Homo sapiens: one gene and its partners. The protein of the gene in region 1 purifies or fractionates together with the protein of each later gene. This does not show direct contact. Each region holds a gene or a part of one and is shown on either strand. Other genes may lie near its edges.

What was found.
Region 2: the proteins of MINDY2 (region 1) and SLC2A8 purify together in Homo sapiens (affinity purification with mass spectrometry; 3 studies listed by BioGRID and IntAct, with this or other methods). This does not show direct contact.
Region 3: the proteins of MINDY2 (region 1) and PPM1B purify together in Homo sapiens (affinity purification with mass spectrometry; 3 studies listed by BioGRID and IntAct, with this or other methods). This does not show direct contact.
Region 4: the proteins of MINDY2 (region 1) and SCCPDH purify together in Homo sapiens (affinity purification with mass spectrometry; 3 studies listed by BioGRID and IntAct, with this or other methods). This does not show direct contact.

The regions. Positions count from the first base shown.
Region 1 is NC_000015.10:58,851,265-58,858,314, forward strand, and holds part of MINDY2 (ubiquitin carboxyl-terminal hydrolase MINDY-2), read left to right. Parts: intron 1-506; coding exon 507-701; intron 702-3,217; coding exon 3,218-3,346; 3' UTR 3,347-7,050. UniProt on the Homo sapiens protein: Hydrolase that can remove 'Lys-48'-linked conjugated ubiquitin from proteins. Binds to polyubiquitin chains of different linkage types, including 'Lys-6', 'Lys-11', 'Lys-29', 'Lys-33', 'Lys-48' and 'Lys-63'.
Region 2 is NC_000009.12:127,393,018-127,400,168, reverse strand, and holds the start of SLC2A8 (solute carrier family 2, facilitated glucose transporter member 8), read right to left. Parts: upstream 3,001-7,151; 5' UTR 2,939-3,000; coding exon 2,883-2,938; intron 2,794-2,882; coding exon 2,631-2,793; coding exon of another isoform or gene 2,265-2,630; coding exon 2,058-2,264; intron 1,998-2,057; exon of another isoform or gene 1,856-1,997; coding exon of another isoform or gene 1,835-1,855; intron 263-1,834; coding exon 163-262; intron 1-162. Other genes in the region: GARNL3 (GTPase-activating Rap/Ran-GAP domain-like protein 3), read right to left, coding at 6,915-7,086.
Region 3 is NC_000002.12:44,227,875-44,232,022, reverse strand, and holds the end of PPM1B (protein phosphatase 1B), read right to left. Parts: intron 2,031-4,148; coding exon of another isoform or gene 2,022-2,030; exon of another isoform or gene 1,611-2,021; coding exon 1,305-1,610; 3' UTR 551-1,304; downstream 1-550.
Region 4 is NC_000001.11:246,762,359-246,768,637, reverse strand, and holds the end of SCCPDH (saccharopine dehydrogenase-like oxidoreductase), read right to left. Parts: intron 4,393-6,279; coding exon 4,281-4,392; intron 2,581-4,280; coding exon 2,499-2,580; intron 1,444-2,498; coding exon 1,338-1,443; 3' UTR 501-1,337; downstream 1-500.

The DNA of each region.
Region 1 (7,050 bases):
CACCTGGCCTCCAAAAATATTTAGAACAATGACAGAATCACTGAAATAAGTTCATAGCTCCCCAAGGGAAATACTTAGGAAGATAACTGTCATTTTAATGTTTAAAATAAAATGTTTTTTATTTTATTTTAATTATTTTGTTATTTTATATTGTTTTCTTTTTCTTTTTTGTTTTTATTTTATTCATATTTATAGACAGGGTCTCTCTCTGTCACCCATGCTGGGGTGCAGTGAGGAGATCATAACTCACTGTAACCTCAAACTCCTGGGCTGAAGCAATCCTCCTGCCTCAGCCTCCCAAGTAGCTAGGACTATAGGTGCACACCACCACACCTGGCTGGTTTTTAAACTTTTTTTGTAGAGACAGGGTCTTGCTATATTGCCCAGGCCTGGTGTATTTTTTAATAGCCATTCTTACAGCTTTATAGATATAACGTTTGTATTTGCAGTCATTCATTCTTGGGTAAAATCTCATAGCTAATGATGGTTATAATTTAATTTATTAGGATTATCTTATGGCATTATCTCTACAACAAGAACAGCAGAGCCAAGAGATCAATTGGGAACAAATCCCGGAAGGAATCAGTGATTTGGAACTAGCAAAGAAACTCCAAGAGGAAGAGGACAGACGGGCTTCTCAATACTATCAGGAACAGGAACAAGCAGCAGCTGCTGCTGCTGCTGCTTCTACACAGGCTCAGGTAAAAACTAGTGTTTTGAGTCTTAAATGTGATGATCATGGCTGGGTGTAGTGGCTCACACCTGTATTCCCAGCCCTTTGGGAGGCTGAGGCAGGCAGATTGCTTGAGCCCAGGAGTTCGAGACCAGCCTGGCCAACATGGCAAAACCCTATCTCTATTAAAAATACAAAATTAGCCGGGCGTGGTGGTGGTGAACACTTGTAATCCCAGCTACTGGGAGGCTGAGGCAGGAGAATTGCTTGAACCTGGGAGGCAGAGGTTGCAGCGAGCTGAGATTGTGCCACTACACTCCAGTCAGGATGATAGAGCAAGACTCCTTCTCAAAAAAAAAAAAAAAAAAGATGATCACTTTAGCAGTAAATTTCGCTTGAGATAAAAAATTTTAAATTAGGTGTTAACTCTTCAATTTTGTTAGGATTTTAGCACCTATGGGTTTTATGACGTTGTCCTAAGCTTGTATCTCGTTTAGTAAAATGTTTTCTCCTGAGGTTCTGATTTTCAAATTTATTTTTAAAATTCGTAATAGCTGCAAAGAAAATAAGCCAATTTGGACGAAGTCCTTTCAATCAACTAGAGGGCAGTATGAGGTACTACTAGAAAAAATAGACTTTGGAGCCAGATAAATGTGGATTTGCATTTCCTGCTCCTGTCTCTCCTTCTAGTTGCAACCTCTTGGATGACGTCCTCTACCTCTCTTAGCCTCATTTTCCCTATCTGTAAAATAGAAGAACTCTTAAGTTTGTTGTGAAGAACAAATAATATTAGCACTTACCCCAATTTTTAACATGTACTAGGCATTCAACAAAGGTTGACATCTCCCTACTTTTCACTTTCTGTAGTTAAACGGTTTAAAGCACTGAAAATTTAATGGTGGGATTCTACATGTTAAATCTCATTTCATTAAGTTAAAAATATTCCCCTTTTTTATGTTTATACCATGCCAGACTGCTGTTCCTGTTTTTTTTTTTTTTTTTTTTTTTTTTTTTTTTTTTTTTTTTTTTTTTTAAGACAGAGTCTCACTCTGTTGCCCAGGCTGGAGTGCAGTGGCGCAGTCTCGCTCATTGCCAACCTCTGCTTCCTGGGTTCAAGCAATTCTCCTGCCTCAGCCTCCCAAGTAGCTGGGATTACAGGTGTGTGCCACCATGCCCAACTAATTTTTGTATTTTTAGTAGAGATGAGGTTTTACCATATTGGCCAGGCTGGTGTCAAACTCCTGACCTCAAGTGATTCACCCACCTCGGCCTCCCAAAGTGCTGGGATTACAGGTGTGAGGCACCACGCCTGGCCTAAACTGTTCATTTTGATTCAGATACATAAGAAATTCTGATTTGGGCATACAAGAAAGCAAGATGCCCTTTTAAGTCTCATAAAACTAAATATAGAAGTCCCCATTAAAATAAGTATAAAATTTCTATTTCTAGCTCAAATATTGACTACTCCAAGCTTAATAGTTAAATCCTACCATGTTATGTGTAGGTTTTCACTCAAAAAAGGTGTCTTATTTCACTAAATACACTTATTCCAAACTCCCAATTCTCAGGGGTTCTTTTCTCCTTTTAAAATCTGTTTATTATGGCTGGTGCGGTGGCTCACACGTATAATCCCAGCACTTTGGGAGGCCAAGACAGGTGGATCTCGAGGCCAGGAGTTCGAGACCAGCCTGGCCAATATGATGAAACCCTGTCACTACTAAAAATATAAAAAATTAGCTGGGTGTGGTGGCGTGCACCTGTAGTCCCAGCTACTCGGGAGACTTGAGGCAGGAGAATCGCTTGAACCTGGGAGGCAGAGGTTGCAGTGAACCGAGATTGTGCCACTGCACTCCAGCCTAACAGAGTGAGACTCCATCTCAATAAAAAAAAAAAAAAAAAAAAAAAGTCTGTTTATTATGGAATTTAATGAGGTTTTGAAGAACTATTATAGTTTATCAAAAGGTGTCACTTTCCTTAACATTTTCTAAACTTTTAACAAATGTGTCTTCAATTTGACTTTAGGCAATATAATCTTACGTTATTTACTGTTTGAAATACCGACTTTGGGAGGCCAAGGTGGGCGGATCACAAAGTCAGGAGTGTGAGACCAGCCTGGCCAACATAGTGAAACCCCGTCTCTACTAAAAATACAAAAAGTTAGCCAGGCGTGGTGGCAGGTGCCTGTAATCCTAGCTACTTGGGAGGCTGAGGCAGCAGAATCTCTTGAACCCAGGAAGTGGAGGTTGCAGTGAGACAAGATTGCACCATTGCACTCCAGCCTGGGCGACGGTGCAAGACTCTGTCTCAAAAAAAAAAAAAGGAAAAGAAATTTTATTTATTCAGAATAATGAATACATTAATTATATCCAGAATGGTAGCGGTAATGGCTCAGATACCATGTAATATAACAAATCTGTATGCCAATAGCTAGCTTCTTTTTCCATCAGTGATTCCTTCCACTGTTACAGTTTTCCTTTCTAGATAACCATGAGTAAGTCCCTCAGAATAGTTAGAGTAATTTCTTGCTGTATATTTTTCTTAAAGCAGGGCCAGCCAGCACAAGCCTCTCCATCAAGTGGAAGACAATCTGGGAATAGTGAACGTAAACGGAAGGAACCACGAGAAAAAGATAAAGAAAAAGAAAAGGAAAAAAATAGCTGTGTTATTTTGTAACAAGTGTTGGCTTCTGTTGGAACCACCTATATGTCTTGAGAAACAAAACCACAGGAGGAAAGGAAGAAAAACCGATCAATACCGTCTGTGCCTGATTTCCTAATGGATTTTGTTCGTTTTTTCAGGGGAACGGTTGTTACTTAGTTACAATCAGACTTTTTCAAGTCACACAATACACTCTTTATGAGCTGGAGTTTCATGTTACAAGTTGGAAATGCTGTGTGTTGACATTCATGAAAAATACTGCACTTGTAGCCAGATTAGCAAATCACAGCAAATTTTGTGTCATAGTGACATTCATAACTCATATCAGTTAGTAAGCTATTATATCTTCTGTTCTAACAATGAATGGAGGTAATTGATTTAGTCTGATTCCTTCCTGAAATCTAAATATTAGCACAATAGTTTCTGAAATTTTACAATGTTAAATTATGATCTAATTCATGAGAAACCACGGGTTTAACATAGGGATTCAAAAAAACAAAAACAAAAGAATAGGAATAAATAACCCTTAATTGTATATTGGACTAGTTCAGCCCTTAAACAGCTTTACCTTTATTTAGGAATGTACATTTTAGGTATTATCTTGATCATGGAGCTTAGTTTTAATTTAGATAGCAAAAATAAAGATTTGTATTTCTTTTCCAATAGCAAAAAGTTACATAACACTAATACTTATAACCTATCAATATCAGATATTAATGACTTTGTAGTGTTGTAAAATTTTGAGGAATTTTGGAGTCTTTATCATAGGTAACCTGGACCACAGTTACTATTTATTGACAATGTGATTGAGTGTATGGAGGAAAGCACAGTGGATGCTAGGCTTTGTAAATATGGGGATGTAGAAAAGCAGATAGTTCAGTGTCTACCTTTTTCTAGAACTACCTTGAACCTTAAATTTTAAGTCATGTTCATTGCTAGAAAATTAAATGTACTTATTAAAACCAATGAAAAAGCACATTTCTGAAATGAAGTTAGAGATAATCTCTGTGTCTTATAAAAAGACATTAATAAAAATCTGAAAGGGCCGGGCGCAGTGGCTCACGCCTGTAATCCCAACATTTTGGGAGGCCAAGGTGGGCGGATCATCTGAGGCCAGGAGTTCGAGACCAGCCTGGCCAGCATGGTGAAACCCTGTCTCTACTAAAAATACAAAAAATCAGCCTGGCATGGTGGTGCGTGCCTGTAGTCCCAGCTACTCAGGGCTGAGGCAGGAGAATTGCTTGAACCCGGCAGGCAGAGGTTGCAGTGAGCCGAGATCGCCCTGCTGCACTCCAGCCTGGGTGACAGAGGGAGACTCCGTCTCAAAAAAAAAAAAGTCTGAGAGTAGCTAAGAATTTATGTAAAAGCAATCAGAGTTTTTAATTTATGGGAACCAAATAAAACTATAACCTCATAGTGTTTATAAGAACTCAGAAATAATATTTATTTAACTTTATTATGAGGCCACACATATTTTCCTGTGTTTCTATATATAGTTTGGAAAACTATCCTTAATAGTCTGTTTTATATGCCTTATATTTAAAAGTTTGTTTTAGTTATTTTGAAAGACTATTGCTGCTGCAAATAGTTGTGTGCTTTACATTCTAAGCTTCAGTACATTTATTTAAGAGCATCATAATCTGACCTGAGCATCCACTTGGAGAGTGTTTTTTTTGTGTGTGGTCTGGGGTGACAAAAGACCACAAAAATGTGTGGTCTGGATTTTTTCAACTATGTCATTAACTTTATGATCCAAGACCAGTTATAGGATGAATCTGTATGTAAAAATAGAGTCTTATTTATGGAAGGAATTATTCTAAGGGAAAAATCCAGGGTCAAGCTGTATCTTTTATGTCCTTTATATTGCATGTCTATTTCTGTTACACAATTTGTTATTTCTTCAAATTTCCTATGGTAGCATGATAAATCATCAAAGAACCTGTTTGGGATATAAAACTCTGATAGAAAATATTTAATGAGTATCTTGATTATAACCTAGAATATGTATACGTTAGTAAAATAACCAGATATACTACAGAACTCTCTATTGGCTCAAACAGGTTGACCTCAATCCAAGTTTACTCTTGATATCACTCTGTTGGCTGAAGGAGGTAACTCAAACCTCAGGGTTTGTTTTTCCCGGGACAGATAGTAGTGATAGTGCATTATATTTGAATAAGAAAAACAAACCAGTATACCTTGAGAAATTTTAAAAAGCATAGTTGAGGCATATTTTTTCATAATTATATACTTATCTGTTTATTGCCCATGGAAAATATATGTGTAGAAGTATTTCTTCTGTTATTTGTTACTATCTTCTTAATTTGTTCCAAAGAAAATGCTGCCATACTGCATTCCCTCTGGAAGGAAACAAAACAAAACAAAACTCACTCAAAACCAGCAGTGCTGCTATCAGATAAGTAGATGTCAATGTATACTTACAAGGAAAAACTAAAAAATGTAATGTGTTAATTCAGCCTTTTTCTATGTAATATTTCCAAGTCAGACTTTCTTACATTCCTGGAATTTACTTTGATATACCAAGAATAATAATGATAAAATGTTTGCTTTGATTACTGTGGGGGGAAAGATGAAATGTTCAATTGTATTAAAACAAACAAGCTTTTCAGAGATACTGGTTTCCTGCCCTTGAAGGGTATAAAGAATTTAGATCATGCCTGTAATCCCAGTACTTTGGGAGGCCGAGGCAGGTGGATCACCTGAGATCAGGAGTTCGAGACCAGCCTGGCCAACATGGCAAAACCCTGTCTCTACTAAAAATACAATAATTAGCCAGGCATGGTGGCGGGCACCTGTCATCCCAGCTACTTGGGAGGCTGAGGCAGGAGAATCGCTTGAACCCAGGAGGCAGTGATTGCAGTGAGCTGAGATAGCACCACTGCATGCAAGCCTGGGCAATAGAGCGAGACTCCGTCTCAAAAAAAAAAAAAAAAAAAAAATTAGAGCTATTGTGTCTTTATTTTCTTAAATTTTGCCCAAGGTAACGTTATATATCCCACCACTTCATTGCTGGTTTGGGTACATAGGATTTTGAAAGTGGTATATTAAAGTCTTTCCTTCCAAGTATTTTGTAATACTTGAAAATTCTTAGATGTATACTGCTAACAAAAGTTAGAACTTAAACATTTTTGTTTTTATCATTTATAGCCTAGATTAGGGACATATTTGCATCAACCAAATCATCATTAGATTTGAAAATAGGCAGATGAATGAACAAATATGGTCATTGCACTTTCCTTTTACTTTCAGAGTCTAAGTATATTCCTTAAGGTTAGTAACCAGTCTTTATTAAAAATATAAAATTTTTCTTCATGTCTAATCCCATTGCATCCACAATGCTGTGATTTATAGTACATGATCAACACTTAAAAGTACTTTACATATGTGTGTTTCTGAAGCAAGTTTTCATGACCTCTGTTAGATTCTCAAAAGAATTCAGAACTTCAATTTAAGAATCACCATTTTAAGAATACATGTGTACATATACACATTAAGCAGTATAAAGCAGCTAAAATTGGCATTGGTTTTACACTGGTGCAGTGTGCTTAGGTAAAGTAACTTCTTCCATGTTTCAAGGTCAGGTTCAGAGTTGAATGAAGTGTAGATTTAAATTTAGGATTAGGCTTTGGAATATATCTTGTTTTTATTGTCTCACATTTCTGATATTGACTACTTATCCCATATTCTGTTTCAAATTC
Region 2 (7,151 bases), on another chromosome or scaffold:
AAGACTCACCTATCCCAAGGTCCCAGGAAGGCGAGCCTGGCATGTTGGGCACTGGCTATGTGACCTCAGACAAGTCCCTTGACCTCACTGAACCTCTGTTTACACATCTGTAAAATGGCCACATGACCACAAACAGGAAGCAAGAGATAATGACAACTATACCTGCCAGGTAGGCCAGGAGGATGCCGACGACGACCATTAGCTGCACACAGGAGCCGAGCAACCCCCGGACTGCTGGGTAGGCGATTTCGGAGATGTAGACCTGCCAGCAATCAGATGAGGATTTATGGCTGGGCGCAGTGGCTCATGCCTGCAATCCCAGCACTCTGGGAGGCCGAGGCGGGCAGATCACCAGAGGTTGGGAGTTTGAGACTGGCCTGACCAACAGGGAGAAACCCCATCTCTACTAAAAATACAAAATTAGCTGGGCCTAGTGGCACACATCTGTAATCCCAGCTACTCAGGAGGTTGAGGGAGGAGAATCACTTGAACCCTGGAGGTGGAGGTTGCGGTGAGCCAAGATCCCACCATTGCACTCCAGCCTGGGCAACAAGAGCGAAACTCCGAAATTTTTAAATAAAAATTAAAAAAAAAAAAAAAAAGATGAGGCTTTACTCAGGCTCCAAGAGTTCTTAAAATGGAAAGGTCTCAGCCATTCAGAGCTGAGGAAAGTCCTTGCAGGGGGTTACGGCAGGCCCTGAAGCCCCTTAGTGGAACCTGCCTAGGTGAGCAGAGCCATCCCCAGGTCCCCACCACTGAAAGATCTGTGGCAGGTGTTTAAAGGGGATTAAGGGTAACGGAGAGGGCTGCATATGATGACGAGAGGCGGTGGGCACAGAGCTTCTCAAGCCTTCGTTTAATGTGCACAGACACCCTGGATAAATCATAGATTCCGATGCAGTAGGTCTGGACAGGCGAAAGATTCCACCTTGTTAACCAGCTCCACGTGACGCCCACCCAGGATCCTAGCCCAGGGCCCACGCTTTGAGTGGTGGCCTTGGACTAGAAGCACGAACTCTCTGCCTCGGTCACTACCAGTGGCTGCCACTAGCTCCCTCCTGGGCCCACAGGCCACCAGGCCCTCACCCATGCATCTAAGGTTATTCCATAGCTTAGGCCCCTAACACAGGTGTGTTTCTGCCCAGTTAAAAAAACCAAAGACATAAAAGGCCCAGCTTCTTCCCCACCCTCTTCTGGTCCAGCTGCTGCTGCCGGTTAGCAAACGTTGGTGAAATGAGCACCCAGGGAGGGGCCTGAGTGGCTGCTTTCAACCTCACTTGGGGGAGATATTGTCCAAGCCCATGGCTGGGGGCAGTTCATGGGTCACCAAGCTGTCAGGATCCAGTCCTCTACAAGCCATGCCAGGGGCTGTCTATCCAAAGTCCCACTGAATCCTGACCACTACCTCAGGGGCTAATGCCATAATCCCTGTTTTCCAGAGAAGGAAACTGAGGCCCAGGGAGGCACTCTGCTCAGGTTAGTGGCAGAACCAGGATTTGACCCAGATGTTCGGGGCTCCCAAGTGGGCAGCCTGGGTCAGGAGGGGGAAAGGGGGAAGATGGGGAAGCCAGAGGGGCTGGCCTGTGAGAAGGGAAGGGGAACACAGAGGCCAGCAGCCTTTGCCCCAAGAGAAATCAGGACAGGAACTTCCTGCTAATTGCAGTCATTGACCCGAAGCCAGGGATGAAAACCAAAATGTAGGGAGTGGGCTCCTGTGGATCATCCGCAGGTTTGCAGAGCAAAAGAGGGGCACGGCTAAGTGGGACAACCCTGGGTTCCTGCAACTGCTTCCCCTCTGACTAGCTGTGGACCTCGCCTGGGCAAAGGACTTCACCTTTCCGAGACTGCATGTCATGACCTCAGTGTAAAATGGAGAGAACAGTAGGATCCTTCCCAGGGTCGACGGGAGGGACCGCGAGATAACGCAGGGACTTCAAGCCTGGCACCCAGAAGGTCCCGCCAGGGGGAGCCGCGCCCCCAGGCCTGGGGAGCGGTTTGTCCCACTCCCCCTCGGTCTCAGGCCGCGAGACAGGACACTCGAGAGACGGGACACTCACCGGGGCCACTAGGGAGGCAACACCGCAGGCCAGGCCGGTGAGGAGGCGGCCCCCCAGCAGCATCCACACGTCCTGGGCCGCGGTGATGACGGCAAAGCCGGCCACGAAGGGCACGGAGCACAGCAAGAGGCTCAGCTTGCGCCCGGCGCGGTCCACCAGCCAGCCGCCCAGCACTCCCCCCGCCGCGGCACCCAGGGTCACGACAGCCTGGAGGCGGGCGGCTGCTGAGGAGGGGGCGCCGAAGCCGCAGCCCATCCTCCCCCTCCACCCACTCCCCGCGGGCTCAGAGGTAAAAGAGCCGGGGCCCCGCGCCCGTCCCGAGGGGAGGGGTAGGGGGCTGAGGGGCCCGGTGCTCGTCCCGAGGGGAGGGGTGGGGGCTGAGGGGCTCGATGCCCGTCCCGAGGGAAGGGATGGGGGGCAGAGAGGCCCAATGCCTGTCTCGTGGGGAAAGGTGGTGGCGGCGGGGCCCGATGCCTGTCCCGAGGGGAAGGGTGGGGGGCGGAGGGTCCCGATGCCCGTCCCGAGAGGAGGGCGTGGGGTCCCAGGGCGGGAGGAGCGAGCCCGGGGCCTCACCCCGAACCAGGAGGCGGCGGCGTCGTCCAGGCGCGGGGCCGGGGGCGCGGCGCGCTGCAGGCTAGGGATGGCCGGGGAGCTGTAGCCGAGCGCGAAGCCGAAGCTGAGTGGGCCCAGGGCAGCGGCGAAGGCGGCGAGGAAGACGCGGCGGCCGCGGGGCGCGCTGGGGGGACAGGGCCGAGGGTGAGCGGAGCGGACGCGGAGGGGCGGGAGGGCGAGGCCGCATCCGGGCCCGGGTTCCCCGGAGCTCACCTGCCGCCAGGAGGCCCCAGAAGCGGCTGGGTTTCCTCTGGGTCCTCGGGCGTCATGTCGGCGGCCAACGCCGATCGGCCAGCTCTGGCGCCTGAACCGCCACGGGCCCTGCGAGTGCGGCCCGCACCGGCCTCTCGCAGCCAATGGGCGGCGGGGGGTGGGGGACGGTGCTGGGCGGGATCGGAACCGCAGAGCAGGAGCAGCCAATAGGAACGCAAGGCGGGGCTAGCGAATCAGCTAGGACCCGCCCTTCACATTAAAGCAGACCAATGGGAGCATAGAACCGATTAGCGAAGCGCGCTGGAACCGCCCCTAGGGCGGAGCGGTCCAAGGTACAGGTGGGGCGGAGTTTCCGTCTGGGAGAACAACCACCCAATTGGAGTGTAGTGCGAGCCCATAGACGGGGCCAGAGAGCTGCCTCAGAACTGAGCTGGCCAATGAGGTTGGAGGGAGGAGTTTTTTTTCTGGCACCTCCTCTCAATCTGGCTTCAACCAATGAGGGTAGAGGCGGGGCGAAGGCGAAGCACGTGGGCCTCAGCCCGAGACTTCCCGCCCCCAACTCCGAGAAGCTGCACCTGTCCTGCCCGGTCGGGTCTGCAGTTCCTGCTCCGCTTTAATCGCTGCCCTGGGGACTGTATTGGAGGCGTCTGACCTATGCCTGGGCCCAGCTCTGCAGGGGAGAGAGCCTCTAAGCAGACCGTCCTGGGCCGCCTCTCTCTCCTCTCGGAGGGCGAGACTGGTCAGACGCTCCCGCTGGGCTGCTGGCGGCGGAGGCGTGGCCCTGTGCACCGAAACCCACTTTCATGCTTCCCAGATTGCTGAAGGCTCGGGTCTCCAGGTGCTGAGGACCAGTGGTAGGTGGGGTCCCCCACGCCGTATGTGTGACAGATCTGGGCTCCACTCCCCCTCTTAAGTGTCACTCACTTCACAGGGAGTCCTGACTCTTGAATCTTCATCTACCTGCCTCCATATTTTGAGTTCCCTGTGGATTTTAATGCCACCTTCTCCCGTGTGCACCCAAGTCGAATGATGAGGCACTGTTGGATCTCACCAGTTGTACCCGATTCATACCCAACACTCTGGGTGCAGGCAGCTGTGGTGGAATGCTGGTGTAATTCTGGAAAGAGCCAGGGCATGGGAGTAAGAGGCTTGGCTTGTAATCCCTCTCTGGGCCTTGTGTTTCCTCATCTCTAAGTGGGGATGACCATTATCTTCCAGGAGAGTTGTGAAGCAAGGTAATGTATATAAGACATGTGAAGCACTCAAAGGCTAACCGGTATGATGAAGACAGTCATCTGATATGTTGCAGTCACTTGATGGTTCTAGCAACCAACATTTTTCAGTCCTGACCACAAGCCTATCCTTAAAGACTTAGGCAACTGCCCTTCTGTACTCCCACAGCATCTAATGCTTGATAACTCGAGCACTAGATGTGTATTCTTATCACAGCATTTATCACTGCTTTGTGATCCCTTGTTTACTTCCGTCCTTCCCCCAATGGACATGACCTCCTCTGGAGAGGAGGCACTTGGTGTGTGCAGAGTGGATCAATGCCTCCAACTCCATAGGCAGACACTGCAGTTAGATGATTTTCTGTGTGACTCAGCCAGTCGGGTACACAGAAAGGATTATGTAGGCAGGGTGCTCCTACCCTGTGGCCGATGGCTTCCCTTCCCGTGAGTGTGCAGAACTCACTTCTTGGCCTTTGTAGACAAATAATGTTGCCAGAACAGCCTCCTGCCCCCTTTTCATAGGCAAAGCACCATCAGCCTGATCAGTAGGGTCCACCTCTTGCCCTTGCTACATCACTCCTCAGACCTGTGACTCTTGTCAAATTGTGGGTGGCTCTAATGCTGCTGATTTGGAAGAATGCTCTAAAATAGTCCTTGGGTTTTTTTTATGCTACACTGTGAAGCAAGAAACTTCCAGAAAAAAAGGAAAAACACAGATACAAGCTCATAAAGCTTACAAATTAGTTTAACATGAAAAACACCAGCCAGATCCAGCTGACACAAGGCACTGAGCCTGGCTCTGCATGGCAGACGTGGGGAAAGCAAGGGCTCTGGAGTCAAAGAACTTGCAGGTTCAAACCATTGCCCCTTCCTAAGCCTATTTCCTTATTTGAAAAGCAAGAATAATAAAACATAATTCATTAAACTGTTGGTGGGGTTGAGACACAGTGTTTTTTTCCCCCTATATAGGAAAAGGGCATAAAACACACAAAGGAAGAATGGGCATGCTAACTGCTGCAAAGAATATGAGCAGACACATTTGGTTATAAACAGCCCCATCTGGGTATACCTAAAAAGCACTGTCTTTACTACTCTTGACTCTTGCCTTCTGCCAAAGATGAACCAAGCAACCTTCAGCTTGGGCTATCATGCTGATCTGTTTGTACAAAAGACAGAGAGGGGAACTTTCCCCACAGTGTGCAAGGCCCACTAGGAGGTACGACCCAAACTTCTATAAAATCTGTCAGACCAAGGTCCTGTCAAACTCAGTTCTCCACACTCACAAAGAAGGCCTGCTGGCCGGGCATAGTGGCTCACACCTATAATCCCAGCATTTTGGGAGGCCAAGGTGGGCGGATCACGAGGTCAGGAGTTCGAGACCAGCCTGGCCAACATGGTGAAACCCCATCTCTACTAAAATACAAAAATTAGCTGGGTGTGGTGATGCGTGCCTGTAATCCCAGCTACTTAGGAGGCTGAGGCAGCAGAATGGCTTGAACCTGGGAGGTGGAGGTTGCAGAGAGCCGAGATCGTGCCACTGCACTCCAGCCTGGGCAATAGAGTAAGACTCTGTCTAAAAAAAAAAAAAAAAAAAAGCCTGCAGAAGAACTCTTCTGAGCTGCTTTAACGGGGTAACAGGAAGTTTCCTTTGATGAATAATGTAATAATATAAGTAGGAAGAGACAGAATAAAATTGAATTGGCTAGACTAAAGCCAAAGGTAAAATACCTTCTTCACACAGATTAAAATATTTGCAAACAATGCTAGTGAAACTGGATCTCCCCTTGGCTAGTGGCTGAGATTTCACTATTTCTTTTGCACTTGGCCCAGTCCACATTTCTTTCTGTTCACACTGGAGAGGGAGCCAGGAAAGGCAGATAAACCAAATTATTATCTTCATATCATTTATGTGAAAGAGTGAGGGGGACTCAAAAAGAAGGAGGAGTTTGAAAATGCTTTCTTTTTTTTTTCTTTTCTTTTCTTTTTTTTTTTTTTTTTTTTGAGACAGGGTCTCCCTCTGTTGCCCAGACTGGAGAACAGTGGTGCAATCTTAGCTCACTGCAGCCTTAAACTCCTGGGCACAAGGGATCCTTCCACCTTGGCCTTCCAAAGCACTGGGATTACAATGAGAATACTTTTAACCACAAGGAGTAGCTGTTCTCTGGTTACATTATTGCAGAGTAACAATAAAACCACACAAAATAATCTGAAGACTTTTGACAAGCTCCTATGCCTTAATATTTTTCATGAGATGCAGGGAAGAAGGAGGAGCTTCTAAGATCTAACCATTCAACTTTTCTCAAAAGTCTACAGGCAGGAATGCAGCTGGTTCCAATCACGGTGAACTGAAACAGCAACCGGGGCCAAAGGTGCAGAAAAAAAACTTACTTATAATAAAGTTAAAAAGCAACGACTTTTCTTTATAAAAGAAACACATTATGTGACATAAATCAAAACTGTAATGAAAAAATAATTTTCCATCTAAGTATATAAAATATGAGAAGGTTGCAGTAAATAAGAATGAGTATTTTTGATTTATTCAAAGTTTCAATCTAAAACCTCAATGAAATCTACCACCTTTATTACAAGGGGACTGATGGTTCCTGAACAGAAAGAAACAAAGGTCAGGAAAGATGGCACCGGACATTGGAGAGGGAACTGGCCGAGTGTGCAGAAGGTTTGGTCCAATAGATCACTGACAGGCTAAAAGCCACATTTTGTTGAGAAATTACATCAGAACTGTTTAAAGAGTATAAACCTCCATAAGAAAACTAAAGATGGCAAATGAGATTCAACTCTGTTACTTCAAGTCTATAATGTCTTCATCGGAGAAAGCCGTGAGCTGGAAGGGGCTGCTGCCGGAGACCGGGCTGCCCTCTCTGTCTGCCACAGGGTCCTGGTCAGAGCTGGCTGAGTGCCCCTCAGGGTTGGCTTCGGAAGTAGAAGCACTTTCCAAGGAGCCTGATGGGATCCTAGAAGAGAAAAGTCACTGTAAGAGGATCTTTGGGAGTACCACAGAACTGGGCCTATTTTTTTC
Region 3 (4,148 bases), on another chromosome or scaffold:
CATCCAAAGATTCCGAAGTTTCAATTTATGGTAACTTAAAGCAACTTTAGACACATGATATAAATATAAACGTAAAGACGAAAAGTTAATGTTCTACAGTTATAAAATAATTTTTAAAAAATATTTTTCCCTATGTGACAAATCTATAATTTAAAAATCCCTTTAAACAAAAACTCTCATCTGCCACTATTTTAAAAATAGCCCATAATTGTTCAATTTCTTAATAACTAACAAAAATTTGTAACAAAATGGACAATTCTGCAATCTTTAAAATGCTCACTGTGGCAATTTTCTCACATGTCTAATGTGTGCCCATAATGTCCAAAGATTAATATTTTGTACCACAAAAGATGGATAAGAAAAAGAATAGATTTAAGTATGCAACACATATATTTTAATATTAAACTTTTCCTTTTTGTTAATGAAAAAAGGTAAGCCAAAAGTGTTCTAAATGTTATATAAATACAAATGAATTTCTAATGGGTATTCTTCCAATATACCAAACTTGGTTGTTTTTAAAAAATTAATTCAAAAATAAGTACAACATGCATAGATTATTCCACATCACATGCTTTATTTGGACTTAAACACTTATAATTTCATTCTAAACACTTGGTTGACATACATTTTGATGTGTGTAGTTAGGCTATACAGAATATACAAACCAAAGCTGTATGAATAATACATAGGTTTTTCAAAAGTTATGTTTCATAAAGAATACAGAGAAAGGAAAAATAGCCACACATCCAATATCTCACAACTTCTAAAAATAAAACTACAGAGATGTAAAATATAAACAAATCAAACAACACACAAATTATCATCCTTGAAAGAAAAATTACAGGCCAGCATCAGCCATTCTTTGAAGAACTAAAATTATTAAAGAAAACATAAATTTATTACAAAGCTAACTATGAGTGTACTAATAGGTAAAATAATATGAAGCAGTATAATTCTACATTAACAAGTTTTTCCATAATATAGCATAATCTCTCTAATCAAAATTTCTAATTCTATCTAGTATTAATTTAACTACTGACTTTAATTCATAATTGGTAGCCTAATTTCTGGCATACAATGTGAAATGACATATAATTTCATTAAATCCATAGTACTATAAATAGTCAATTTTACACTATCTCATAAAGGTGTATGCAAAGGCCTTTTTAAAAAACAAGGCTATCTGAATATAATAAAACTAGTTTTCCAAGATTCAAATAACAAAACAGTTATATAAATGCATACATTACACTTCCTAGGTTAAAAACCATCAAAGATCACAAAAATATTACCAAAAAGGAAAGTCATATTTTTTCACCACTCATCTTTGTCCCTGCATCTTCATTAGAGCTGTCTAATTCAGCAAGACCACTTTCTGATTCAGTATGGCTTTCCTGCATTGTCACTGGGTTTCCAGCATCACTGTTCGAAGAAGTAGCTGTGGCAGCTGGTTCAGCAGGGCTTTCTTCTCCCTCTACTTTAGCTAGCCTGTAACTAGTCAGCATCTCCTCCAGAAGTTGTCGGTAGTTTCCCCTATGATTAATTCTCATTTGCCTGAGAGCTTCCACCAATTTTCCCTGTGATCCACTTTCCTCTGCTTCATCGGAGGCCTTTTTTTAAGATTCAAGACCCCAGTGTCAGTAGACAAACTAGGATATCACATGTATTTCATAACACATTACAGCAAAATACTAATTTCTCTACCGAAAAGTAATATAGTCTAAGCATGAGAACATTTTATTAAATATCAATTCTTACCTGTATCAATTAATAAAAACTTCCAATAATAATCTCAAGTCATTTTAAGCAAATTACCATTAACTAGTTTATGTCTTATTTCACAGTCATTTAAAGTTTAATCTGAAATTTACTCAGCTTTTATAATTCAACAGCAACACAAGCATTTCCTAAAACTGACTTACTTAAACAATATTTGGCTATATGATTTAGTACAAAAGAAAATCAATGTTTAAAGCAGTAGGAAAAGGACAGAAAAGCAGGCCATCAGAACAGTTTCTTCATCATTTCTGCTAAATAAGTAGGAAATACAAAACATAAAACTATATAGATTTAAACAGATTTTTGAAAGATTTTAGAGTTTTTACGGATAAAAATTGTATTTACTTTTTGCTCTTATTTTGATAAAAACATCTCTAGATAAAAATAAATTAAGTATTCTCAGTATGAATAATAAACTACTCAATCCTTTCATATTTTAGTGAATTTTGGAAAATCTACAGGTTTCTACAATAGTAACTACTTAATACTGTACAGAACAAGCTCTAATCATCCAAGCTGATCACAGTTAAGCCGACAGACTAAAATAAAGATATCTTTACAGTATGTGCCTCTTGATATGATGCATTATAAAGTACAGTCATGTCCTGTATTCGTGCCAAAAAATGTTTAGAATGAATCTAATAATGCTAATTCCCAGTTTACAGGAAAAAAGGGAATAGAGGATCAAGTTAGAGCACACATGAGAAAACAATCATATGAATTCAGAATGCAGGACGTATTGTAAAAAACTGGCTCAGATTCTTCAAAGTCAGTTTCAAGGGGAAAAAAACAGGTGAGGGGCTTGACTGATTAAAGACTTGTTTAATGTGCTTGATTGATAAACTTGATTAGACTGGGATTCAAAATAACAATTACAATAGTCACTCTAGTGACAACTAGGGAAATTTAAACTTGATATTCAATATTATACAATTTATTTTTTTATACACCTACAGTGTACCCACAAAAATTAAAAATAAATTTAAAAAAATGAATTTTCTTAGGTATAATAATGGTATTATGGTTATACAGAAAAATGTCTTCGTTCTTTTTTTTTTTTTGGGATGGAGTTTCACTCTTGTTGCCCAGGCTGGAGGGCAATGGCATGTTCTCGGCTCACCACAACCTCCACCTCGAGGATTTAAGCGATTCTCCTGCCTCAGCCTCCCGAGTAGCTGGGATTACAGGCATGTGACACCATGCCCGGCTAATTTTGTATTTTTAGTAGAGACAGGGTTTCTCCATGTTGGTCAGGCTGGTCTCGAACTCCCAACCTCAGGTGATCTGCCTGCATCGGCCTCCCAAAGTGCTGGGATTACAGGTGTGAGCTACCGTGCCTGGCTGAAAAATATCTTCATTCTTAAGAGCTGCATGCTTAAATGTTTACAGGTAAAATATGATGTCTGCAATTTTCTCTCAAAGGGTTCAGTCAAAGAAAGAAAAAAAACAGTAGATATAAAAAGAAAAATAAAGCAACTATGGCAAAATGTTAACAGTTGTTGAATCTAGAGAGACAATATACAGCTGTTCCAACATATCATATCCCCTTTTTAAATACATTTGGAAGTTTTCATCTTAAAATATTGGGAAAATAAAATACAAAATAGGTTATTGATACAGTTGATGTGACACAAACTCTTAACCATCTTTAGAGACTATTACATATACTTTTGCAACAAAGATAACACTAATAAAGCCATATAATAAATGGCAATGTTTTATTAGAAAAATGAGAGCAGATGAATGTTATTTTTTAAAAAGTTGCCCTCATTGGCCAGGAGCAGTGACTCGTGTATGCAATTTCACCACTTTGGGAGACGGGTAGGAGGATTCCTTGAGGTCAGGAGTTCTAGGCCAGCCTGGGAAACACAATGAGACCCTATCTCTACAAAAAATGTTTAAAAGGAACACGCCCATAGTCCCAACTACTTGGGGAACTGAGGCGAGAGGTTGAGCTAAGTCGAGGAGGTTGAGGCTTCAGTGACCCATGACCATACCAATGAACACCAGTCTGAACGACAGAGTGAGACCCTCTTAAAAAAAAAAAAAAAAAAAAGGGCTTGTTAGGCTGAGGCGGGTGGATCACGAGGTCAGGAATTCAAGACCAGCCTGGCCAAGATGGTGAAACCCTATCTCTACTAAAAATACAAAAAATTAGCAGCACGCAGTGGCAAGTGCCTGCAATCCCAGCTACTCCGGGAGGCTGAGGCAGGAGAATCGCTTGAACTCGGAGGGCGGAGGTTGCAGTGACCCGAGATCGCACCACTGCACTCCAGCCTGGGTGACAAAGTGAGACTCTATCTCAAAAAAAAAAAAAAAAAGAAAAGAAAAAGAAAAAAAAAGTGCTTGTTTTCCTGCCTCAGACGGGG
Region 4 (6,279 bases), on another chromosome or scaffold:
CATATCAAAAACACAGAGGCTTCGACCTCCCGCCCTCCTGAACGCAAGTTGCTGCAGGCACGGAGGAACCTGTTACTGTTTCGTGATTCAGATGTGCAGCTAGTCGTGGGCTCTATTGCTCCTGTACTGCTTTCTAATTTCACAGCCGATAAAACCTTTTCTAAGGTCCCACAAGTTAGGGCACAGCTGAGGATCTGTATCTTGTGATGACCAGGCCAGGACAGAGGAAGCAGAGTTAGGGTGGGGAATACTACCACCAAGAACACCCTCTTCGAGTTAGATACCCCCCGCTTCTTCTTACAGGCCTCTTTGAGTTAGATACCCTCCCCCACTTCTCCTTACAGGCCTCTTTGAGTTAGATACCGCCCCCTCTTCTTCTTACAGGCAGAGCAGAAGGGTCTCCCAACACAAATAATATTCCTAAATATTTTATGTTCCTCACTTTTTGGTAGAAATTCCATAAAGGAGTGGCTGTCTTGTTTAGGTAATGAACAACATGATTGCTATGTATATACGTGTTTATTATATGCTTATTACAAAAGAAAAAGTCTTTTGCCTTATTTTAGGGCTTCCATGTAAAACCTAGTTAAAATACAAAAAGTAAATTAGAGAAAAATTCTGCTTAGGTAGTGAAAATTGATAGCAACTTATAAGCTGTATCCTTAAAAACCTAGTCACAGATATAGAATTACGTAAAGATAAAATGATAAGCCTACTTATTGGCAAGAAACAGGTTAGGCCACTTAAGCAGCATGTTTCTACCACTATACAAATACATCGGCAGGTCCAAACATTAAACCACCATTCGATTGACAACCTTTTATTTTTCAACTTAGGTAACAGTCCAAAATCAGTGTAGATTGGCGAAAAACTAGGCAAAAATAGCAAAAAGTGCAGTTTAATTTAGCAAAGGCTCAAGACAGTATGTGGAAGGAAGGTGAGATTTCCCTCCTACTGCGGCAAGGCAAGCGGCAGTTACTGCCCGACAGTAACGATGGTGTGCGCACCCCCGATGAGAATGCTGCTGCAACACAGACTGGGACGCCGCCTCCCCCATTAGACCTGCCAGCTCATTCGTGAAAATCTACCAGGAACACATCAATGAAAAAAATATGTCAAATATGAGTTCTCTGTTATAAGCAATAAAATCACAAAATCAACTCAGATTTGAAATTTAGGGTAAGCTAGGACAATTTCCTACTTTTTAATATATAGATATTTTAGATTTGACAATCGTTTCCACATACACTCAGACAGGCTTACAGAAGAATTTCAAATATCAAATAGAGAAGCTGTTAATTCACGCACGTTATGACTTCAGTTAATTCTTCCAGTGTTTAGACTTCAGAGCTGCTAATAACACTAAACTCAATACCGTGTTTGTTGAGTCTGTCAATCAACTTTGTTTTGGAAAAAGCTGCTCCAGGTGTGAAGACCCCGCCCCTATAAAACAATAACAAGAGAAAACAGTGCACTCAGCTCCTCTCCAGTCTCCTATTTCACAGGCCTCACTATCAAATTGCTACAGAACCCCTGAAAACCCAAGTCTTCATGGTAATCACGGCTACCTTTGATTCCTTCCTAAAATCAGCCAAATGAGCAAGTAGCTATTAGTCAGGAGAAACTTGCACCACAGCCAACCCTATCTAGACTGGCTCTGTTCCTGGAGATACTGTTTCCATTCTATGCATGTGTTTGGTGGGTGCACTGTGCGCCATCACCCCGAAGAACCGCTGCTGTTTACAAGGACAGTCCTCAGACTTAGGGGGATTAAAGAAAGACCCGAATGGAATAAATTTAGATAATCAATTATTATGAAAGTGTAAACAGAACTTAAATTGGATGAAAAAGAAGTTTTTAAAAATATAATAGCTAACATTCATAAATGCTAAATATTTTCAAGGGGGACCTAGGTATTTGAAAAAATTTAATTAGATTTTACTATATACAAATTTTACTTTTATTAATCCTGTTTTAGGTCATGCCTGGTTTACTTCTCAGCAGCAGGCCTCTGCTCATTTGAAAAGCTGGCCTAGTTTTAGGGGGACAGCTAAATGCTCCAGTAAGACAGTACGTCTGAAAATCATCTAGCCAGGATCCCATGGTTCCATTTATGCTGGTGTCAGTCAGGGTTACTACTGCCAGCTGGGTATAGTTAGGCACTGATTGGAAGCTCCTAGTAATACTATTAACAACAGGGACTTTTTTGAGTGGCTGACTCTGGACTTGAGGTATCTTTATAAAGGGCTGAAGTTAACTCATGGCTCTCCAACTTTTCTGTCTCCTCTCATTTACCTCCACAGTTGTTCCTCTGAGACCAACTCTGGGCTGGTAAGAAGCTGTCCTTCTCACAGTTTTAATTTACCTATATTTTTGAAGCAAAGGAACTGAACTATAAATGCTTACATGCAAACCCAAAGCCTGAAAATCAAATCAAAATAAGCTAAAATATAACATAGATAAAAAAGATCTTCTAATTGGAAGAAAACCAAACTTACGCCTTAGGCAGATGAGAAGCATCACTTAGAAGAGTCATGGCTGCCTGAACCATAGCTATGGGGGTAGCCACATAGCCAGCCTCTGCAGAAAACAGTTGATCAGGGAAAAAGAAAGGAATCATGAAGTACCCATTCAACAACATCAAAAATCAAATGGTAGATTTTATATCTTACTCTAGGTGTGCAGATTTTTTTCAATAGATACTCTGGTCACTTAACAAAAATAACATATCGAAAGTATTTATTAAGTGTTAGGAACTGTACTAAGTGCTTTAGGTCTATTAAACTCATTTAATTTTCATAACAATTATTTAAGGTCAATATTACTTTTATCCCATAGAGAGAGAGGTTAAGTGACTTGTCCAAACTAACAGGTAGTGACTGAGCCAAAATCACACCCAGGCAGCTGGTTCCAGAGTCCACACTCCACCCACTGCACTGCACTGCTTCTTGACAATCATTGAAGCCAATGATCCTAGGTTTTTTGTTTCTCTATTGTACACTGAGCCGATCCCTATCTGTATTCACACACTTCACTTAAAAACAACAAAAAAATCCTCTCAATTTTTTCTTAAAGAATAACGACTAAACATAAGTTAAAAAAATGTTTATAAACAAACGGAACATTAGCATTTATAATCCTGTCAAATAATGAAAATACAGTCAACTTACCTTAAAAAGTCAGGTGGGAATTTCAGAAAAGGGCAAGATGGAAACATACTATCATCTGGCTTGATTAAAATCCCCCGTGGGCCAGGCATGGCAATTCATGCCTGTAATCCCAACCCTTTAGAAGGCTGAGGCAGGAGGACTGCTTGAGCCCAGCCTAGGCAACATAGTGAGACCCCGTCTCAATAAAAAATTATAGCCTGTGACCTAAAAGGGCTGACAGTAATTATACTACAGTTCACAAGTGGACCTGTCTGTCTCTGACAGTAATTATACCACAGTTCACAAGTGGACCTGTCTGTCTCTGACAGTAATTATACCACAGTTCACAAGTGGACCTGTCTGTCTCTGACAGTAATTATACCACAGTTCACAAGTGGACCTGTCTGTCTCTGACAGTAATTATACCACAGTTCACAAGTGGACCTGTCTGTCTCTGACAGTAATTATACCACAGTTCACAAGTGGACCTGTCTGTCTCTGACAGTAATTATACTACAGTTCACAAGTGGACCTGTCTGTCTCTGACAGTAATTATACCACAGTTCACAAGTGGACCTGTCTGTCTCTGACAGTAATTATACCACAGTTCACAAGTGGACCTGTCTGTCTCTGCATAGTTCTGTAAAATGTACAGCAAAAGTTCTTGAACGTTTTGGGCAACATTCTTTTAACAACCTATCAGAAGCCATTCCCTTCCCTTGAAAAGTGCACGTGTGCATACATATTTTACAAACAATGTCAGGGTGTTCAGAGACTCTAAAGAAATCCTAGAGCACAGATTTGACTGACATTATAATTACACTACTTGCATATGAGATTCAAACAGGTGAATATCAACCAATCCCTTTTCCTATTAATACTAATTAAAATTTGCCATTCTGAATTACTGAATCATACTCCAAAAACAGCCAGAGGGAGGGATGCACTAATAAAATTGGATTATATCAATAATTTCAATCTTCCTTTGACAGAATAATTTTAAGTTACTTAATTTGTACAAATGTATTTCTAAAACAATTAAGCTTTAAAAAGAATATATTGTAATGGCATTGTACTTTATAGCTTAAGAGTATAAAATTCCCAAGCATTCTTAAGTGATATGTGAAATACCTGGTCCTTTCACCTGAGTACAAATTTTGATATTTGGTTTGTTCTTATCTGTACCAGTGCCTTGGCTGTATCCTTGACCAAAGAATGTCAGCGTGAATGAGGCAGCATCAATCTGTGAAGGAGAAGGCAAAGGGCGCATTTCATAAATACGTCATTTCCTCCTGGAACATAGTAAAACCGACTATTCTATTTCAAGTGAGACATTGTCAATAGATGAAAACATTATTTTATCTGCCAGAATATCCCGTCATCATTTAAGCAGGGAGCGAAAACTAATTCTTTGAAGCTGTCAGTTTTGAAGACTGGCGTGATGTTGGGGGGAAGGGGAGTGGTAAGAAATAGGGAGGAAATAAAGATGATCTGGAGATAGTTTTTATCGGGGGGCAGAATATAGAAATCTGGTTTTAGATACCTATTTGAGGCGACAAGACAAAAATAGCCAGCAAGTAATGGAAATATGGGCCTGGAGTATAGGTATATAATTGTTCCACTTAAAGATGTAAAAATTCGACTCAAAAAACTAAATTCTTGAGGACTTATCCTAGCATCTTTCACAATCACTAAATTTAGGAATGAGGTGATAAAGAATTCAATCATGATCAACACATTTTTATGAAGTATCAACTAAGGGTCAGATACCATTGAGGCCCTGAGACATAATTACTGCCTTTGCTGGAGCTTACAGTTTAGTAGGAGGAAAGGGGGGGAGAGAGAGATAAACAGATTAAATAACAATGTGACATGAACTAAAACATACAGGCATAACTCAGAGGAGGGTGTTATTAATCTACCAGGGCAGAGGGCAATGGTTCTGAACTGTATATATACACACACACAAACACATTTTAATGGTTGTTTTAAAACCCCAAAAGTAGATGGATTCCAGAAAGGAGAACCCATTATTTAAAGGGAAGAAGGGATGCAGTAGCATAGCCTTTCCAGAACATACAATTCAAGAGGTACAGACAAGGTCAGACACACATGCCACACCTGTCCCATCTCCTGCTATGGCGCCCACACTAATGGGTTCTAATCCTCTCTCAGGCTACACACATTGTCCGACCCAGCATAGTCTCTGGGTGGCTACTATCAATTAATCAAAGTTGGATGAAAAATGAATCCTATGTGCTATCCAGAACTAGATCATGAAGGGTCTAGGATGGCCTCACATCTCTGAAGATGGACTTTCGGCCATTTGTGCTCCAGGGGTGGGTACCAAAACCACTCAAATCTGGAACCTTCTTCCTTCCTCCGCAGTGGTGATTCTCAACCCTGGCAGCACATTAGCATCACTGGGCAGATTTAGAGAGCCCCAGTGCCCAGGCTGCATTCCAGACCAACCGAACCAGAGTCTCTGGTCATCTGTTTTGGGTTCTCTTCCAAAGTTGGGAACCACTGCTCTATGCTTTCAGGCCCCACTCCAGACCTACTGAATCAGAACGTCCAGAAGCAAGATGAGGGCATGTGTCAGTGAAAAAAGCTTCCTAGGTGATTCTTTTTTTTTTTTTTTTTTTTTGGAGAAGGAATCTCGCTGTGTTGCCCAGGCTGGAGTGCAGTGGTGTGATCTCAGCTCACTGCAAGCTCCACCTCCTGAGTTCAAGCAATTCTCCTGCCTCAGCCTCCTGAGTAGCTGGGACTACAGGCGTGCACCACCATGTCCAGCTAATTTCTGTATTTTTAGTAGAGATGAAGTTTCACCTGTTGGCCAGGCTGGTCTTGAACTCCTGACCTTAAGTGATCCACCTCCCTCAGCCTCCCAAAGTGCTGGGATTACAGGTGTGAGCCACTGCGCCCGGCCATGATTCTGATATATGAAATCTCAGTTAAGAATCACTGCCAAAGCAGTGGGCCAGGAACATTTTATAAAGAAGGCAATGACAAGGTCAGATTTTGTGTCTTAGAAAGATCTCTTGGACAGCAGTGGGAAGACAGATTAGAAAGAAACCGTAGGAATGCTACGAAAAGTTCAAGCAAGAGATGGAAGCCTGCACTACCAACC